4 separate regions of the Homo sapiens genome follow, and regions 1, 2 and 4 are each linked to region 3. Evidence: fine-mapped expression QTL. A gene starts in region 3. Each other region holds a variant in brackets. All regions are shown on one strand. Distances are from middle to middle. Region 1 has its middle 67 kb from the start of POMP. Region 2 has its middle 55 kb from the start of POMP. Region 3 holds the start of FLT1 (fms related receptor tyrosine kinase 1). Region 4 overlaps FLT1 (fms related receptor tyrosine kinase 1).

Region 1 (5,153 bases), 97 kb before region 3:
ACAATGTGCAAGCGTTCCAATTTCTCTGCCTCTGCTCCAACCCTTGTTTTATTTTTGTTTAATTGCGTACTTTTTTTGTTTTTTGATTAGCCATCCTCACAGGTGTGAGGTTATATTTTATTGTGGTTTTGATTTGCATTTCCCTAATGATTAGTGACGGTGACGCTGAGCATCTTTCATATGCTTGTTGGCCATTTGTATATCATATTTAGATAAATGTCTGTTTGAGTCCTTTGCCCATTTTTTTAATTGAGTTTTTGTTTTTGTTTTTGTTGAGTTGTTGGAATTCTTTATATATTCTGGATCCTAACCCCTTATAACCCCTTATATGAATTGCAAATATGTTCTACCATTCTGTGGGTTATTTTTTCACTCTTTCGATTGTGTCTTTTGATACACAGAAGCTTTTAATTTTGATTAAAATTAATCAATTTTAATTTTGATTAAAAGTCCCATTTGTCTATTTTTCCTTTTGTTGACTGTTCTTTTGGTATCATACTGAGGAAATCCTTGCTAAATCCAATATTGTGAAGCTTTTCCCTTATGCTTTTTTCTACAGTTGTCTTTTTAGCCATTATTAGTGATTATTGCCAAGAACAATGATTTCACCAGAGGTTCCAAAAAATGTGATATTCCAATTTAATCCTTCTTTCTTTATTAGCTGAAATACTTCTGTAAAGATAAATTTCCCTCTTTAACTACTGGGTTGTCCTGAGGCTCATTTTATGCTGGAAACATTTATTTTTTCTTTTTATTTACAAGTTTTCAAAATAATGTGTTGGTTGCCTAGTCATCCTTAAAAGAGGACAAATGAGAGAGTTTTTTGAAGTTTCATTGTGAACTTATACATTTAAGGATTTTAATGTGTTTAATCCACTGCAGTTGTTATTTTTATTGTTCAAACATTTCCATCTTTAGACAGAAGGAGACTTCATGCTGGCTCCTGGATTCTTTTGGCATGGGCCTAAGATTTTTTTTATCGATTCCTTGCTTTCTGTTATTTCAAGGTGTTTTAGACCTATTTAACAATTTGATGTCCTAGACAAAGAATTGACCATTGAGATAATATTTAAGTATAAATAGTAATGAGATTTTAAAATCTAGAATGAGACTACTTTAGTAATCTCAACATCGGCCGGGCGCAGTGGCTCACGCCTGTAATCCTAACATGTTGGGAGGCTGAGGCGGGCAGATCACCTGAGGTCAGGAGTTCAAGACCAGCCTGGCCAACATGGTGAAACCCCATCTCTACTAAAATACAAAAATTAGCTGGGCATGATGGCGGGTGCCTGTAATCCCAGCTACTTGGGAAGCTGAGATAGGAGAATTGCTTGAACCTGGGAGATGGTGGTTGCAGTGAGTCGAGATCACACCACTGCACTCCAGCCTGGGCAGCTAAGCGAGACTCCGTCTCAAAATAATAATAGTAATAATAATCTGGACATTGTGGAATTGGACTGAAGTATCCCAAGATTCTTGAGTATTGAGACTAGCATAATCAGGGCAGTTATGGAAAAACATGAACCGACTTCATGTTTATACCCCCAATGAATTGAAAATTCATAATGGGTTGATACAGACATCCAAGTGGAGAGGTCAAGAAGGCAGTTGGAGGCATAATTTAAAACTTAGTAGGAAGATCCAGGCTGAAAGCACAGATCTGGGAATTATCTTGTTGACTTATCTGTAAGTCTCAGGGATAGTTGAGATGCTCTAGAGAGAAAATGCTGAGGGAAAAGAGAAGCAGGCCAAGGACAGAGCCCTGGGCTACACCAACAGTTAGTCATTTGAGAAGAGGTGGAACCAGTGAAGGGATCCAAATGTTTATTAAGTTAGGCAGAAACCAGGACATCGAGGTGGTCCTGAAACCAAAACAAGAGTATATTTCAAGAAGGAAGTCAATTGTGTCCAAGAGAGAAGCTGAGAGGAAGACCAGAAAATGGCC[G/A]TTGCATTTGGCAAAGTGGAAGTCATCTGTGACTTTGACAGGAAGGGTTGCTGAGGTCAGTGGGGTTGGAGGCATCAGTGGAGTGTTTTGAGGCGGTGGACTGTGTCTTCACGGAGACTTCAAGGTAGTGGGCTCTCAGTTATCCCATGACATCAAGTGGCAGGTCAAGGCATCTCATTACCAAAGATCAGTCTTACACACAGGGAAGGAGAGCTCCATGTGTTCAAGCGGGCAGGCGGGCAGACAAGAGGGCAGCAAACTATGGGGAGATCAGGTCCACTCTTTATCTGCTTTTTTTCAAAACCATGGTTTTAAAAAACACATAACAGAAAACTGGCCATCTTAACCTTTTTTTTTTTTTTTTTTTTGAGATAGGGTCTCACCCTGTCACCCAGGCTGGAGTGCAGTAGTGTCATCTCGGCTCATTGCGACCTCTGCCTCCTGGGTTCAAGTGATTCTCCCACCTCAGCCTCCCGAGTAGCTGGGATTATGGGCATGAGCCACTGTGCCCGGCTATTTTTTTTTTTTTTTGTATTTTTAGTAGAGACGGGGTTTCACTGTGTCAGCCAGGTTGGTTTAACTATTTTTTAAGTTTCCAATTCTGTAGTGTTCATTAAGTATATTCACCTTATTGTGCAATGGATCTCCAGAACTTTTCTTCACTTTGCAAAACTGAAATTCTATACCCATTAAACAAAAACTCCCCATTCCCCCTTCCCCTCAGCCCCTAACAACCCCCATTCTACTTTCTGTCTTGATACATTTCACTACTCCAGGTACCTCACAACTTACCTCCTTATTTAAGAAGTCTGGAAGCCGGCTGCAGTGGCTCACACCTGTAATCCCAGTACTTTGGGAGGCTGAGGCAGGAGATTGCTTGAGGCCAGGAGTTTGAGACCAGCCTGGGCAACAAAGCAAGATCTCATCTCTACAAAAAAAAAAAAAAAAAAAAAAAAAGTTTTTAAATTAGCTGGGTGAGATGGCACCTGCCTATAGTCCCAGCTACTCAGGAGGCTGAAATGGGAGGATTGCTTGAATCCATGAGTTGGAGGCTGCAGCGAGCTATGACCCTGCCACTGCACTCCAGCCTGGGTGACAGTACAAAACCCCATCTCTAAAGAAAAAATAAGAAGCAAACTCAAATCTCAAAGAGCCATGTGTTTGAAGGACTCTGTGAAAGAACAGTTGGACTGTCCAGAGAAAATATAAGTGCAAGCTGCAAAGCCCAGACTGGGAAAGGTCCAGCTAATCAAGAGCAGCATTCTGGGGACTCAGAGATAAAACTGACCACTGAGGGTACCCTATGCTTCCCCAGCCCACGGCTGCGCAAGCCAAGGAGAGCCAGGTAGACTGCGAGAGGAGTAAGAGGCAACATCCCACACAGAGAGGAAGAAGCACCAGCCAGTGGCTGTTGTGAGGCGGCTTCTGCAGCTGCTGGAAAAGGCTCTGCTGAGAGGGCTCAGCTTGACTGGCCTTGCCTTGGAAACAAAGAGCGAAGGGTGAAAGAGAAGCTTAAAGTCCAAAACAAACATTGCACCCATCCTGATGAGGAGCTGGGTATTGCTAGGGCCTGATGGGCCAGCTCGAGGCCACCCTTCTTTTTTGGAATAATGCTCAATCCTCCTCCAGGAAGATGTCTGGGGAGGCCAGATTGGGTGGCTCTTTCAAAAGGGAGCCTGCCGCCACAAACTCAGGCTCATCTCTCAAAAGGCTTATAGAGCATCCGAAGCGAAGACGCCAAATGTTGCAACCAGCTTCTCAGAGTCTCCAGTCCTGGCGCAATAACATGGGGCGACCCAGTCTGAGTTTTCCCGGTTACCGTCTTCAAAGCCAATGCTAAGGGGAGGTAGTGGTAGGAGAACTCACTTGCTCAATCGGCTCACTCATTTGGTAATGCTAATGTGTGCATTTTAGCTGCCATGTCGGCTAACATTCAGTGTTGCAGTGCGGTGTTTCTATTCATGCCTAGTAACTGACCTGGGGCGCAGGAGCCCCAGGCTCTAGTCCCAATCCTGCTACCTATCAGCTGTGTGACTGTGGTCAGGCCACTCAACTTCTCTGAGCCTTGGTAGCAGATCTGTCCCACAGAATTGTTTTATTAAAGAAGATTTATATACCTAACGTTAACTTTTAACCATAAATGATTACCGAAAGTTTAGATTTTATGTTTGATCCTTAAGAATGCATTTTATCAAATTTTAATGAAGTCCTCCAGTGGCTTCCCATTGCCTTCCATTGACCTAAGAGTGTAAGTGATTTGGGGCCTGCCTAACTCTGACTTCATTTCTTACTCTCTTGCTGTCTTCACACACAGACTCTCGCCCCACTGAACTTATTTCTGTTCCATAAGTATTTCAGTGCTGTTCCCACCCCAGGGCTTTGGCCCCTGTTCTCCCTTCTGCCTGGAATCCTTTTCGTCACTCTGGTCCCAACTCAAATATCATTTCATCAGATCCATCAGATCCATCATTGTACGTAATGTTGCCCCCTGACCTCCTTACAATCTCTGTCCCAGTAACTTATTGTGTTTTCTTCATGAAACTATCACCCTCTTATTTCTGTTGGTTTTGCTTATTTATTGTTGTGTTCCCTATGAAAAGGGATATAAAAGCTAGACGTTTGCCTTATTCACTTCTGTCTCTTTCACCTAGAGTGGCACGTGGCTTATGGAGGAGTTTAATAAATATTCATAAGGCCGGGCGGGGTGGCTCAAGCCTGTAATCCCAGCACTTTGGGAGGCTGAGGCGGGCAGATCATGAGGTCAAGAGACTGAGACCAGCCTGGCCAACATGGTGAAACCCCGTCTCTACTAGAAGAAATTAGCCGGGCATGGTGGTGGGCGCCTGTAGTCCCAGCTACTCCAGAGGCTGAGGCAGGAGAATGGCGTGAACCCGGGAGGCGGAGCTTGCAGTGAGCCGAGATTGCGCCCCTGCACTCCAGCCTGGGCTACAGAGCGAGACTTTGTCTCAAAAAAAAAAAAAAAAAGAAAAAAAAAAAATTAGCTGGGCGTGGTCCAGCACCTGTGATCCCAGCTACTCGGGAGGCTGAGGCAAGAGAATCGCTTGAACCTGGGAGGCGGAGGTTGCAGTGAGCCAAGGTCGTGCCACTGCACTCCAGCCTGGCGACAGAATGCGATTCCATCAAAAAAAAAAAAAAAAAATCATAGAACAAAGTAATTACCACTAGGGAAATTCCATCAAAAAAAAAA
Region 2 (5,153 bases), 110 kb before region 3:
TTTCAGGAAATTTACCAAGCGGCTGATAAACACATCTGTTACTAAAAATTATACAAACTTACAATTAAATAAATTATATTAAAAATAAAAGTGATAAATGCTCAAAACTCATAATTATTACATGTTTTACTATTTGGTATGCTTTTGAGGTTACTTATGTCTGTTAAATCTGTATGGTGTAAATATTATAGGTGGAATGTTACCACCCATCTCTTCCTCAACCCTATGCTTAGTGGCCTCATGTTTTTCCACCCCCACCAGAGTCAGCTGTTAAACATTCACTAGCACATCACTGCAAAAGACCCTCAGAAGTTTCTTAGGAATAGATTTACTTAAGTTTTCATGGGCCTTGGGGTGCTGTGGGCAGTCCAGCTTGGTGGCCTCTGAGGACAGCTATCCTGAGCAATGTGTGCTGGACCATAATATTGGCCCTTCATTTGCAGCACAATTGTTGTGTATTGGGGCATTATGACATTCTGTGGTTGGAAATATTTCATTATGTAATGAAATAGAAAATAATTCAGAAGAGAGTGTTAACAGCTTTATTAATATATAATTCACAGACCATATAATTCACTCATATAAAGTGTACAATGATTTTTAGTATATTCACAAAGTTGTGCAGCTGACACCACAATCAATTTTAGAACGTGCTCAACACCCTAAAAAGAAACCCTGGGGCTGGGCGCAGTTGCTCACGCCTGTAATCCCAGCACTTTGGGAGGCTGAAGCAGTCGGATCGCCTGAGGTCAGGAGTTTGAGACCAGCCTGGCCAACATGGTGGAACCCTGTTTCTACTAAAAATACAAAAATTGCCAGGCGTGGTAGTGCATGCCTGTAATCCCAGCTACTCAGGAGGCTGAGGCAGGAGAATTGCTTGAACCCAGGAGGCGGAGGTTGCAGTGAGCCGAGACCATGCCATTGCACTGCAGCCTGGGCAACAGAGCGAGACTCCATCTCAAAAAAAAAAAAAAAATAGAAATACCATTTGACCCAGCCATCCCATTACTGGATATATACCCAAAGGATTATAAATCATGCTGCTATAAAGACACATGCACACGTATGTTTATTGTGGCACTATTCACAATAACAAAGACTTGGAACCAACCCAAATGTCCAACAATGATAGATTGGATTAAGAGAATGTGTCACATATGCACCGTGGAATACTATGCAGCCATAAAAAATGATAAGTTCATGTCCTTTGTAGGGACATGGATGAAGCTGGAAACCATCATTCTCAGCAAACTATCGCAAGGACAAAAAACCAAACACCACATGTTCTCACTCATAGGTGGGAATTGAACAATGAGAACACACAGACACAGGAAGGGGAACATCACACACCAGGGCCTGTTGTGTGGTGGGGGTGTGGGGGAGGGATAGCGTTAGGAGATATACCTAATGTTAAATGAAGAGTTAATGGGTGCAGCAAACCAACATGGCACATGTATACATATGTAACAAACCTGCATGTTGTGCACATGTACCCTAAAACTTAAAGTATAATTAAAAAAAAAAAAGAAACCCTGTGCACATTAGCCATCACTCTCCATTTCCCCTTAGTCTTCCCTCTCCTCTCCCCTCCAAGAATGAGGCAACCACTAGTCTTCTTTTGGTCTCCAGAGATTTGTCTATCTGGACATTTAATGTAAATGGCACCATACAATAGATGGCTTTTTCTGACCCACTTCTTAGACATAATATAATGTTTTCAAGGTTCATCCATGTTGCAGCATTTGTCAGTACATACTTCATTCCTTCTTATTGCTGCATAATATTCCCTTGGTTGGATATACTACCTTTTTTTATCCTTTCATCAGTTGATGGATATTTGGATTGTTTCCACTTTTTGACTATTATAAATAAATGCTGCTATGAGTATTCGTGTACAAGATTTTATGTGGGCATAAGTTTTCATTTATGTTGAGTATTCACCTACCGAGGAGTGAAATTGTGGGGGTAATATGCTAACTCTGTGTTTACTATTTGAGGAACTGCAAAATATTTTCCAAAGAGGCTGCACCATTTTACATTTCCACCAGCAATGTACAAGAGTTCCAATCTCTCTACACCCTCACCAATACTTGCTATCTGATTTCTTTATTTTAGGCATCCTAGTGGGTGTGAGATGGTATCTCACTGTGACTTTTATTTGTATTTTCTTAGTGACTAGTAATGTTGAGCATCTTTTCGTGGGCTTATTGGCCATTTGTATATCTTCTTCGGAGAAATTTTCATTCCAATTATTTGCTCATTTTTAAATCGAGTTGTCTTTTTTATTGTTGAGTTGTAACACTTCTGGATTCAAGTTGCTTATGAAATATATGATTTGTAATTATTCTCTCCCACTGTGTGGCTTGTCTTCACTTTCTTGATTGTGTCCTTTGAATCACAAAGGTTTTTAATTTTGATGGAAGTCCAATTTATTTTTGTTGTTGTTGTGCTTTTGGCATTATATATCTAAGAAGGCTTTGCCTAACCCAAGTCCACAAAGACTTACTCCTGTTTTCTTCTAGGAGTTTTGTAGCTTTAGCCCTTAAATTTAGGTCTGTGATATATTTGGGGGAACTTTTGTGTACAGTGTAAGGGAAAGATCCAACTTTATTCTTTTGCATGTGGATATTCAGTTGCCCTAGCACCATTTGTTGAAAATAATATTATTTACAAATTGAATTCTCTTGGCATGGAATAGATTTTGAGGTATTACCTTACTTTTTCACCTGATGCTACCCCTAATTTCTTTAAACATCTATTTATTTCCATTAATCATTTCTGGCCTCATAGCTCAGGCTGCTTGGCCAGGCCTTCCCCTGAGGCACCCATTTTAACACAGACTGGTGTATAGAGCCCAGACCAGAGGCACTCTCTAATCTCCATGTGCATTAGCCAGGGTAGACCAAGTACTGTAACAAACAGCCTCCTACATCTCAGTGGCCCAACACAATCAAAGTTTATTTTTCTCTTA[T/C]CGTAGTCCCATGTGAATCGGTGGGGGAAGGGATGTTCCATGCACGTACTCAGGACTCAGTCTCCTTCCAGCAAGAGGCTCTTCTGTTGCCTAGGGCTTTATAGTCCTCTTTTTTCCCTTAGCTGCTGACCAGACCCAGATGGTCGGGTCTGCTGTCCCCAAGGGCTTATTGTCCTTCACTAGATCTTCTGGATCTGGCCAGTAGTCAAAGAAAGAAAGAGAGAGAACATGGAGGATCTTGCAGGAGTTTTTTTAAGGGCCAGGCTTGGAAGCAGCACACATCGTTCCTAATTCCCCAGGATTCATCATACAGCTCCAACTGGCTGCAAGATAAACTGAAAAATGTCGACTCACTGTATGCTGGGAGGAAGAAGAGACAGGATTTGGTGAACACAGAGCAGTCTCTGCCATAACATCTATATAATCTATTTTAAGAATTGACCCCCAAAAATTATGAGTGTGAATATGTTTGCTCCTAGCTGCTGCAGAAACCCTCCACCTCCAATCTCCCTCCTCCACATTCTGTGACAGGGGAATATCTCTCCAGCAGCTCAGTTGCAGTTTGTGTGAGCCCCCTTGGAAGGCAATTGCTGGTTTGCAGAAAGGCAAAGATCTGTCTGAGCGGAACAGAGAGCAGAACTGCAGCAGAGTCTATGGGAAATCCAGTAGAAAATTCCAGGAGGAGGGAGCTGGTTTCCTGAAACTTTAAGCTTGATGGGACCTGAACAATATATCATGGCAAATCCTTGGGTGTTGAGTATGCTAAGGTTATAGTCTGTATTATGACTTTGGATCTTGTAAATGTCCATTTATTGAATGTCATAAACTGAGGAATTATGAACAAATGAGGCATGAAGACAGAGCGGGTTTCTCCTGTCTGGAAAGAACTCCTAGGATTGTAATTTTGTGGGCCTCTGATTAAACTGTGCTTTTGTTGCATGTCATATGAGACACTGATTTTTCCTTGTCTCTTCTATATTCTTCTGCTGAAGCTGAAGTCCTTTCTACCACTCTGCCATTCACAGGAGTAGAAGCAGCAACTACATGTTTTCCAGAGCCATCATTAAGAAAATGAGAAGGCACCAGGTCTCTCCTACACCATGTGCCGTCCCCAGTAAACTAGCCCCATCCTTTTATCTTTTCCTCATGGAGGCCTCAACTGCTGGTCCCCTTCAGAAGGGCTCCAAGCCCCCTGCACCTCACTCTAAGTCTGGGCCCTAAACTGAACTGATACCCATGTTAGAGGAAACATATTTGTGCATTTCTGAAAGACTCAATTTGCCAACTTTTCAGAAAATCACAGACCCCATCTGTGATTTGCTCCTTCACTAGTGATTTTGAATAATATCATGTGTGGATGGGCGTTTGCTTCCTTCTACTCTGACTGTCCCTTGAAATGTGTCTCAGGCCACACCCTCTACCTGGAACACCCGCTTCACTCCAGAAGCCCCCTCCTACCAATATTCAAATAATTCTAAAATCACGCTTCTCTCACAGAGCCTTTCCCAGTAAACTGGACCAGGATGATGGTTCTCTCCTCCCCCCACCCCCAAAACCCATCCTGTCTGGACCTGCCATGCACGGGTCATTCGTCACACAACCACACCAAAAACTCTTGCACCATTTCTTTATTCATTACATTTACTAATTAATACATTTGTTGTTTGTCTCGGGCTGGTTTGCCCAGTTGTAGCTGTCAGTCTGAATCAGTGAGCTCCATCTGACACTGCAAACTTCTAGAATAAGGGATCCTTTCATTCTTGATTATAGCCACCAATAATCATGTTCTGTTTTTTCTTGGGTTCTGGCCTGTGGTCACACAAAGCATCAGAACTGAAGTGCTGCCTTTAGCTCCCACAATGCATATGGTGACTAAAGGGAAAGAAGGGAAAGTGGAGTGAGCCCAACAGATACTAAGACCATTTATCATGGGCCCCGATTTAAACACAGCACTTTAGGGATTCTTACCTGAAGCCAGTGAGGAACATAGCTTCGTCCTTATTTTCTAGATGAGACTCAGAGAGGTTAAGTAGCTTGCCCAAAATCAAACCCTAAATTCTGGAACCATTATGCAAATCATGTCTGTCTGATTTTCTGTTTCTTGATGCCTCCCTAAGCCCAAGTGACAGGTGTTACTGTTCACCACACTTGCTTAGAATAAAGAGCCTCAGAGCTTTCTCTA
Region 3 (5,153 bases):
TAAGCTAAAATTTGTAGCATTTTTGAGTTCTTTGTGAGAACGCTAATGCAACTAACAAAGAAGTCATAGTCAATAAATTGCTGACTCTAATTAAAAGCAACTTTTCAAAAGAGTAGTTGGGAAATGTGGAAGCCCACCCTTACTGCAGCATAGTTTTAATATAAATCTTAGATTCGACTGTGACTCTACTAACCTTAAATAATTGAGCAACATGTTAATATCATTGATTAGCATCTTAGATTATAAAGATTGTTTCAGCTGTCCATCAAATACCTGTTCTGGCTTTACAGACACAATGTAGATTCATTGCTGGCAGCAGGTTTGGAAAGTGTTGTCTCTTTATGAGTTAAAAATATCAAAATGGCATTTGAAAAAATGTATTAGCAAATTAAACCTTTGTACATGGTACTATGGACCACTTTCCCCCAGAGTCAAATGTGTGTCTCTCCTGAGAAGCCCTCCTTGGGTTTTCCCTGCCAATAAATGTGCCTTTACTTCTCTGAGCTGATGGAGGACTAAACACCCCTCCAGCACTGGAATGCCGGTCCTGCAGCCACTTCAAGTGTCCACCTTCTTATCACAGTCCAAGCCCTTTAGAAGGCAAAGATGATGGCTCTCCATCAGTGTTTTCAGCCCTAACCCAATGCCTGGCCCCTGTTGAATGCTGCAGAAGGACAATGCTGACAGCTTCTCCTTGAAAGAGGGTGTGGGAGTGACAAGCAGCTCTCAGGTGAGACCAACAGACACTGTGGCTCCGCACGTATGTCCCAGGCTGTGTTCTGGGCTGGGGGACCAGCAAGGAGAAGGATCAGCTGTCCGCTTCCAGCTGTTCTGAGGGATGATGCTGTGGGTTTTAGAGGAGGCAGGGGTGCGGGAGGCAGAGAAAGGCGCCAGGAAGAGTGGTGAGGAGAACTGGAAAAACAGAAAGCGCTGGTGAAGCCAGCAGGCAAGCAATGACTCCGGCAGTCTTCCTTGCCTCTGAAGCAGAAGGGATCCAGGGACAGTTAGTGGCTCAGGTCCTGCGGCTCCAGGTGCCCAGACGTGCATTTCCTGTGTGGAGTGGCCGGGGCCTCTCCTTGGTGTGCAGCCCAGAAATGTGGCAACTTTGGGTTACCCAACCTTCCTAGGCGGGGAGGTAGTCCAGTCCTTCAGGAAGAGTCTCTGGCTCCGTTCAAGAGCCATCACAGTCCCTTGTATTACATCCCTCTGACGGGTTCCAATAGGACTATTTTTCAAATCTGCGGTATTTACAGAGACAAGACTGGGCTGCTCCGTGCAGCCAGGACGACTTCAGCCTTTGAGGTAATGGAGACATAATTGAGGAACAACGTGGAATTAGTGTCATAGCAAATGATCTAGGGCCTCAAGTTAATTTCAGCCGGTTGTGGTCAGAGTCACTCATCTTGAGTAGCAAGCTGCCACCAGAAAGATTTCTTTTTCGAGCATTTAGGGAATAAAGTTCAAGTGCCCTGCGCTTCCAAGTTGCAGGAGCAGTTTCACGCCTCAGCTTTTTAAAGGTATCATAATGTTATTCCTTGTTTTGCTTCTAGGAAGCAGAAGACTGAGGAAATGACTTGGGCGGGTGCATCAATGCGGCCGAAAAAGACACGGACACGCTCCCCTGGGACCTGAGCTGGTTCGCAGTCTTCCCAAAGGTGCCAAGCAAGCGTCAGTTCCCCTCAGGCGCTCCAGGTTCAGTGCCTTGTGCCGAGGGTCTCCGGTGCCTTCCTAGACTTCTCGGGACAGTCTGAAGGGGTCAGGAGCGGCGGGACAGCGCGGGAAGAGCAGGCAAGGGGAGACAGCCGGACTGCGCCTCAGTCCTCCGTGCCAAGAACACCGTCGCGGAGGCGCGGCCAGCTTCCCTTGGATCGGACTTTCCGCCCCTAGGGCCAGGCGGCGGAGCTTCAGCCTTGTCCCTTCCCCAGTTTCGGGCGGCCCCCAGAGCTGAGTAAGCCGGGTGGAGGGAGTCTGCAAGGATTTCCTGAGCGCGATGGGCAGGAGGAGGGGCAAGGGCAAGAGGGCGCGGAGCAAAGACCCTGAACCTGCCGGGGCCGCGCTCCCGGGCCCGCGTCGCCAGCACCTCCCCACGCGCGCTCGGCCCCGGGCCACCCGCCCTCGTCGGCCCCCGCCCCTCTCCGTAGCCGCAGGGAAGCGAGCCTGGGAGGAAGAAGAGGGTAGGTGGGGAGGCGGATGAGGGGTGGGGGACCCCTTGACGTCACCAGAAGGAGGTGCCGGGGTAGGAAGTGGGCTGGGGAAAGGTTATAAATCGCCCCCGCCCTCGGCTGCTCTTCATCGAGGTCCGCGGGAGGCTCGGAGCGCGCCAGGCGGACACTCCTCTCGGCTCCTCCCCGGCAGCGGCGGCGGCTCGGAGCGGGCTCCGGGGCTCGGGTGCAGCGGCCAGCGGGCGCCTGGCGGCGAGGATTACCCGGGGAAGTGGTTGTCTCCTGGCTGGAGCCGCGAGACGGGCGCTCAGGGCGCGGGGCCGGCGGCGGCGAACGAGAGGACGGACTCTGGCGGCCGGGTCGTTGGCCGCGGGGAGCGCGGGCACCGGGCGAGCAGGCCGCGTCGCGCTCACCATGGTCAGCTACTGGGACACCGGGGTCCTGCTGTGCGCGCTGCTCAGCTGTCTGCTTCTCACAGGTGAGGCGCGGCTGGGGGCCGGGGCCTGAGGCGGGCTGCGATGGGGCGGCCGGAGGGCAGAGCCTCCGAGGCCAGGGCGGGGTGCACGCGGGGAGACGAGGCTGTAGCCCGGAGAAGCTGGCTACGGCGAGAACCTGGGACACTAGTTGCAGCGGGCACGCTTGGGGCCGCTGCGCCCTTTCTCCGAGGGAGCGCCTCGAGGAGTGGCTGGCCTGGACCCGCGAGCATCAGCGCTCAGACCGGGTCCGCGCTGGGGCTGTCCGTTTGCGACAGGATCGCTGATCCCTTATCCAGCTGTCGGGTTGGGGTCTCACTGCCGAGGCCCTGGGCACTAGGAGCAGCACGCACCGGGACCTGCCTGGCACCCAGAGCCCATTCCCAGAGGACCTGGGGCAGGTACGCAGGGTCCCCCGGAGCCGGGAGCAGAGGCTCCTGAAAGCCTGCCAGGCTGCCCGGGGCTGGGCTGAGGCCGGGACTTTGGTGATATTGGGCACTGGCCGCGACCTCGCGTCACGAGAGTGTAGGAGGGGAGCCGATTTGGAGGGGACTCGTGCCTGCGGGGGAGCAGGAGGATCTCAGGAGAGGGCCAGCGCCGGCATCCCATGACCCGCTTGAGTCCCCAAGCCGGACTGTCCCGGGGAACGCTCGGCGAGCGCCCGCTCCTCCCCGCCGCTCTCGGACCGCGGGGCCCCAGTGCGCTGCGCTCAGCCACCCGGGTGGGGCCTCTGCCGGGAGCAGGCGTGGTGCGCGGTCCAGTCCGTGTCGCGGACATCAGTGACCCTGACCCACAAGGGCAGCCCAGGGCCCAAATACCGTTAACTTACTGACTTACAAGCCTAGCCTTTAAAATCCGAGCGAAGAGAGGGCGGGCGATTTTGACCAAACGATGTGGTTTGAGGAATCGATGAGGTCCGCCCGCCACCTAAGTCAGCCTTCGCTGGGCGTTTGGGAGACGGGCGGTGGAACAGTCAGGGGCCGGGGGTTTTACCAGCAGTTAGACCGCCGCCATTGAGGGGTCAAAGCCCCGAGGAACTTGAGGGTTCGGACTCGCAGTCTCTGCTCAGTGGGGCTGAGTGGCGGAGATTTGTGCCTCGTTCCCCTGGGCGCAGAGAGCCAGATTTCGGAGCGCCTTTCTTTTAAGCATCGTGGAGAAAAGGTAAAATATGAAATAAAATATAGTAATATAAAATAAGTCATTGCAATGATTCCCGGGAAGAAAAGTCAATAGGATGGAGCGTAGTACAACAACAACAACAACAAAAAGCTTGTTAAACCCAAAAAGCAGTAATAATTAAATATTCTTTCTCAGTGGGAAGACTAACTAGACCGTCAGTTTCCAAGTAACAAGTAATAGTTCCAATTAGATTGGAGAAACTACTAAACCCGGAGACAGGGCGAAGTGGTAACTTCTGAGAACTCACTGTAGGTTGGGAAAGGTGCTAACATAACTATATTAAATAAAATGTTGTATTTTCTATTTCACAAATACATTTTTTGTTTTGAAAAGTCACTTGTATTAAAATATAATTGCTTAGAGAATTTAAATACCTCACTCGACTATTATGTAAAGATAAATCTAGCTAAATTACATGAATCTAAAATTACGGAGGGAAAAGTACGTGATTTATTAGATTTTCTGCTTCACATAATTATATCTTTATTTTGAAAACATGCTGACTTTAGTGAAGCATCGTTTTCTTTGTAATTGGAAGCATCTTAGATCAGTGGAAACTTTACAGAAATGTGAGTGGGATCCTCTTGTGATTTTTCTTAGATTATAATTTACTTAAATGGGGCAGCAGTTTTGCAACTCTGAATTTCTTTTTTTTTTTTATTTGCACTTTTTTGGGAAGAAAGGACTAACATTGGCAAGCTGAGAACCTCTTTACCTAACAGTTAACAGAACACTCTGTTAGTTCATGTTAGCTCAGTCGGCATCATGGGTGCTTTTGAAAACTCATAGTTTCTCTGTCTGGTTAACAAGCATCTCACAGTAAAACAATCAGCTACCGCCTACTTTACAAACCGCATCAGGGCTTTCATGCTCAACTGAGAGGCTGCATATCCGGGAAGCAATGTCTAGTAAGAAGCCACGGTTCCCCACTGCAGAGTTCTCTTGCGTCATTATGAACCTGGGTCTGCCTTCCTTCAGGTACTATGTAATCTTTGAATACTTATCAGCTATTAATATTCTGTGTGTGTGCATGCCTGGTGTGCACATGCATTGAGAGGTAAAATAACCAGAGGCTCAGTATTACAAAAAGATAATGCCTTTCCCCTCTAAAGCGCTTATTTACCTCTTCCAGACATTCTGGGAAATAAAAAGATGCCAATAATTCAGATACTTTCAAGTCCTCTCTATTGCTCTTTCTCTATAAAGGATACCAGTCCTCTTTCTCCAGCTCTGAGTCTCATTTCTTACTTTTAAGGTATCACAACCTGGATGAAAGCTACAGACCTTTTTCTTTGCCCTCATTTTTCTTGAGTTCTTGAACAGCTAACATTTACAATTT
Region 4 (5,153 bases), 29 kb after region 3:
ATCAGGCTGGGACTGTGAGAAATGGAAGGTCAGAGATTTCAAGGTCGTCTAGTCCAATCTCTTTTTTACAGATAAGATAACTGAGATCTGGAAAGAGAGATGACTTGTCTAGGGTGATACAGCTAGTCACTAAAATGGATGTCATTATTGCATCATATGGAGATGTGTAGATTTTAAAGCACTTTCACCACCTCACTTTATTGCCTCACAACAATCCTCCGAGATGTTTGTCGAATGTCACGTAAGCGTGTGAACAGTTCCCTTTTGACTGTACCATTGTAGAGGGAACTCATAGATTACGTAAGACAAACCAAATGTCTTCTAAAACTGATTTTGATTCTATAATTAGTTTTCCAAATGAGGAAACTGGTTCAGAAAGGGAAATGATTGGCCAAAAATATCATTGCTCAACTAATGATTGCATGAAATTCAGAGCCCAGGAAAATTTCTGTACTTTTTATTCAGAAAAAAAGATGAGACAGGCCTATAGGACTAGATGACCCACACTGGAAAAAGTTCAGTATTGAAAATATATTTTGGATGACACTGACATTTATTCTTGAGAGTTTTTACTAAGTTATTGCATATTTGAATATTATAACTAGTTATATATTTTAATATAATTTCATTGAACCTATATGAATCCATTACCATTCTACATAAATAGGCTTTTGGATGTTATTTAGGTCATTTGGTATAAAAGGATATATAATATTTATGAGCAAGGGTAGAGCTAGAAAAAATTTGTGAATTAAGAGAAATTTGTATTAGTGTATCTTTTGCTTATAAATTAAAGATACAAGTAAATTAAAGATGTAAATAAATTAAAAATGAAAAACTCACCTTCATGGAAAGATAACTTAAAAAAAGGTAAGAAGACAATTTACAAATAATACATTTTAAAAATTTGTTTTTCAGGATCTAGTTCAGGTTCAAAATTAAAAGATCCTGAACTGAGTTTAAAAGGCACCCAGCACATCATGCAAGCAGGCCAGACACTGCATCTCCAATGCAGGTAAGTGGCTGTGTTGGTTTGGGAATAATCTAGTTGCCATGCCTAAGGCAAAATCATTCCCTGGCAGAGTAAAAAGGTAGGGACCTCAGTGATCTCCTGTGATCTGCAAAGTGCAAACCATAGGCATCCAGCTTCCCATGAAAGGGGATTCATGGGGAAGGGAGAGCATTACTCACTCAGGGAAATGGGGGAAGGGATGCCCAAATAGTTCTGCATCTTTATTCTGAGTATTGTTCTACAGCTTTTCTGAATGTGTTGCTTTCCCGTAAAGAGGAAGATGACTACACTTAAGAGAGGACCTCCGCTTCCTAATAAAATGAATGCTGAGGAACTGGTGCTGAGCCTAGGGCCCAGCCATAAATATGTTTTGTTTTCTTATCTGTGATTGCAGGGGGGAAGCAGCCCATAAATGGTCTTTGCCTGAAATGGTGAGTAAGGAAAGCGAAAGGCTGAGCATAACTAAATCTGCCTGTGGAAGAAATGGCAAACAATTCTGCAGTACTTTAACCTTGAACACAGCTCAAGCAAACCACACTGGCTTCTACAGCTGCAAATATCTAGCTGTACCTACTTCAAAGAAGAAGGAAACAGAATCTGCAATCTATATATTTATTAGTGGTAAGACTTCCATTTTCTACATTCTGTTTGCTTTTGCTTTGCAAATGAGTCATAAATCTACCCTGATCCATTGGAAAGGTTGCTTTCCTAGTGAGTATGAAAGAAACGGGTTAGGAAAGAGATTCCATCCTAGTTGTAGACACTTTCGTGGATGTCAATTTTAACCAGAATTGTCAAGGCCCAGTTAGTCACTATGTGCTCCACAAAGAGAGAGACTGGTCTGTATAGGTCACCTCTGTACCCACAGCTCCTAGCACAGTATGTGGCCCATAGTTGGATGAATAAGTGAATAAAAGGATTTTAGTTCTATTTCTTAGTTATTGAGAAGCCCAAAATAGAATACATGATTTTTGTCATTTAACACAGCTGCATTCTCTTATATGTTGGAACTGTAAAATACTGTTGTTTCTACTAAATTAATAAACGCAATGTTGCTGTTATCTCGAGTGTTATATAACTGGTTCCAATGGACAATGTTGTATTATTTCATGTTCACTGAGGAACTACTATAATGACATGAGAACTGGCACTGACCAAGATACAGTGCAAAGGGCAAAGGGCAAAAATGAATCATGTTTGATTCATTTTTTATGGTACTCGTAAAAAAATCATTTTCATTCATTCATAATTTTTATGATACTGTTCTTCCTTCCTTAGAGAATGAACAAATGAAGTAACATTCAAAGGGGAGAAATGCAAAATCTTTTAAGAAGTAGAAACTCACAGTAAAATTGGAACCCTGAGAAAGAATAATAAAAATGGCCTGTCACTTTCTTCTTCCTTGTTTAGTTCCAATTTTCAAATCTTGAGGGGATTAAAGAAAAAAACGCACACACACAAACAAGGCTGTAGAGAACACAAAGCAATATTAGTAGGCACTTCAGGCACAGAATCAGGTTTAAAAAAAACAAAAGAAAACAACCAACCATCAGCATCAATAGCTAAATATACATTGTGGGTCTACCTTCTGGTGAGGTCAGGAACTGGGTCTTTGCATTGGAGGTAGTACAATAGAACTAACATTTTAGTGAGGCAGTTCTTTTTCGTTGTTGTTTGTTTGTTTTTTTGAGATGGAGTCTTGATCTCTCACCCATGCTGGAGTGCAATGGCAGCTCACTGCAACTTCTGCCTCCCAGGGGCAAGCGATTACTCCTGCCTCAGCCTCCTG[C/A]GTAGCTAGGATTACAGGCGTCTGCCACCACTCCTGGCTAATTTTTGTATTTTTAGTAGAGACTGGGTTTCACCATGTTGGTCAGGCTGGTCTCGAACTCCTGACCTCAGGTGATCCACCTGCCTCGGCCTCCCAAAGTGTTGGGATTACAGGCATGAGCTACCGTGCCTGGCCATGAGATTTTTTTTAATTTGTGAAATAAGGCAACTAGACAGTGTTTTTCCCTGAGCATAACATGTACATATCCAAATTCAGGATTAGTCTTAGGAGACAGCAGAACAGTTGCCTGTTATTGACAGTAACCTCTTTGTAGCTGCTATCAGCCTGATTTTGACTGAGCCACTTTCATGTCCCCGATCCTCCAAATTCTGTTTTGACATTTTGTGCTTGTCCAGGGGGTAGATAACTGTAAGGGACTAACCATCCAAGCAGTTTGCCGTCAAGGGATGCAATCAGCTCACTTCCACATATGAGTGGGAGGTAGGCCGGGGAATTTTGCTTGGGGAAGTCAGCCCACTTCTAAAGCAGGGATGAAAGGATGGTAGGCAGGAATGAGGAAGGGTAGAGAAGGTGCAGCATTAAGAGCAGAGACTTTCAGAGAGGTAATTTTGCAGCTGAGGGGGAAAGACAACACGCTTGATAGTGGTGGAAAAAGCCATGTACTCAGCCATCTGTTCTCTTTCTCTAATTCCACGTAGCATATTGTGTTCTTTCCGACATCTGTGGAGAAAGGAAAACACTGCAGTGAGTCACAGACTGCCCCTGTCTCTATAGGGGAGTGGGAGAAAAATTTATTCATTCTAATATTTTCATAAAACTTTCTCCTATAGGTTTATCAGTCTGACTTGCAAATTGAACACTTAAATGAATAAAAAGAAAACCATCTCTTTTTTTCTAATAAATAGTGTTCAGCTATTTTCACCTTTAACTCCTAAACTATTCAATAGACATCATGGCTTTATGAAGCCAGGGAGTGCAAGCCTCTCCACTCAGTCCCCTACTATCACAAAGGAGAGACACTGCTATTTAGAATTAGTTCCATTTCAACTATACAACAGAGCAGATCTGGCAAACAATCATGACTTTGAGTGTCAAATCCATTGTTAATCTAAGCCCTGTGATGGCACGGTCCATGTCTGTCCTGGTTACTTTTATCTGCAATGTGCCTCCCTGGTACAGTGCCTTGCACATATTAGGAAATCCATAATAATTGCTAAATGAATAAATGAATGGATTAACAGGTGCTTTGTGGAATACTATGTTAAAATTGACATTGAGGATAAATTCCAGGCTTAGTGGGAAAAAGTGCCATGATTGATTATTGATGTCTCTTGTGGGATTGTCGGGGAGCAGTGGCCGTTAGGTCATGTATTTATCATGTCTGCCTTCCTGTAATAGTCCACAACCATTCGCAGAAAATTACAAGTTCCAATATCATAAAACACTTGCATAATTTGTTGGACATTAGGAAATTATCTATCACTTAGATTGTTTTTGGATAAGGAAGGATTGTGAAATGCGTTGTATTTCATAGATTATTATGGAATACACACATATACATACATACATATACTACGAATATTATATGAGCTTGGTGGAAAAATTGTTATGATAATATTATGAGACCACTATTTTTAAATAGCACTGATACTAAAAGATATTGGAATCAATAATGGTAACCATAGAAGAGCCTTCTGAATCTTGTTTGCTAATTAATTTAATCAGCAAATATTTAGGAAACAGTTACTATGAGCCTGTAACTGTACTACTATGAACAGTAACATCTATTTTGTTATTTGTTTCCTGTTAGGGTGATATTGGTCTCATAATCACACCTTATTAAAGTCCAAGGTAGCTGTGATATAATCCATTAAACAATCATAACTTTTCCGAGGAGTCTAATATTTTATGTCTCTCTCTCATTATTTTATTAACTCTCTTTCTGAGAAAATTTGATCTTCTGCTTCCATTGTTACCGAACACTTCCATGACAGGTTTATTTTAGTTCAGGAGCACAAAACTTATCTCTGATGACTCAGAGCATTGTCTCTGGCATTAATAAAACTCCAACCATTTCCTAATATACAGCTGTGATTACTCGCTAGATATTAACTTGGTTATCATGTATTTATTATTGTTGAATATTTACTTTAGAATATGTTTGGGGGATTTCAGCCCCAATAAGCATCTGCAGATTATTGGGATTTCATTTTATTTTTCTCTAAGGATGAGTAACCCTATGTAAACACATCTTTTGAAAAGGTAGATTTGTAGTCTAATAGGGTTTTAAGAAAAAGAATCAGGAGTATAGCTCTGTCTACATGTCACAAAACCCAGCATGTAAATTATGAA

Evidence for each region.
Region 1: its variant is fine-mapped to the expression of FLT1 in whole blood (TOPMed, PIP above 0.99).
Region 2: its variant is fine-mapped to the expression of FLT1 in whole blood (INTERVAL, PIP above 0.99).
Region 4: its variant is fine-mapped to the expression of FLT1 in whole blood (TOPMed, PIP above 0.99).

Annotation. Positions count from the first base shown.
Region 1 is chr13:28,589,235-28,594,387 of GRCh38, reverse strand. No RefSeq gene overlaps it. Among named protein-coding and RNA genes, the nearest start is that of POMP, 67 kb to the left of the region's middle. The variant G/A (reference allele first, on the strand shown) is at 1,946.
Region 2 is chr13:28,601,383-28,606,535 of GRCh38, reverse strand. No RefSeq gene overlaps it. Among named protein-coding and RNA genes, the nearest start is that of POMP, 55 kb to the left of the region's middle. The variant T/C (reference allele first, on the strand shown) is at 2,972.
Region 3 is chr13:28,492,267-28,497,419 of GRCh38, reverse strand. It overlaps FLT1 (fms related receptor tyrosine kinase 1), which reads left to right and starts at 2,292. Exons shown (of 30, transcript NM_002019.4): 1 at 2,292-2,640. The coding sequence starts at 2,577. RefSeq lists silencers at 2,387-2,436, 2,557-2,676, 2,757-2,806.
Region 4 is chr13:28,463,383-28,468,535 of GRCh38, reverse strand. FLT1 (fms related receptor tyrosine kinase 1) reads left to right here. Exons shown (of 30, transcript NM_002019.4): 2 at 919-1,015; 3 at 1,407-1,633. Among named protein-coding and RNA genes, the nearest start is that of FLT1, 29 kb to the left of the region's middle. RefSeq lists a silencer at 1,038-1,269. The variant C/A (reference allele first, on the strand shown) is at 2,802.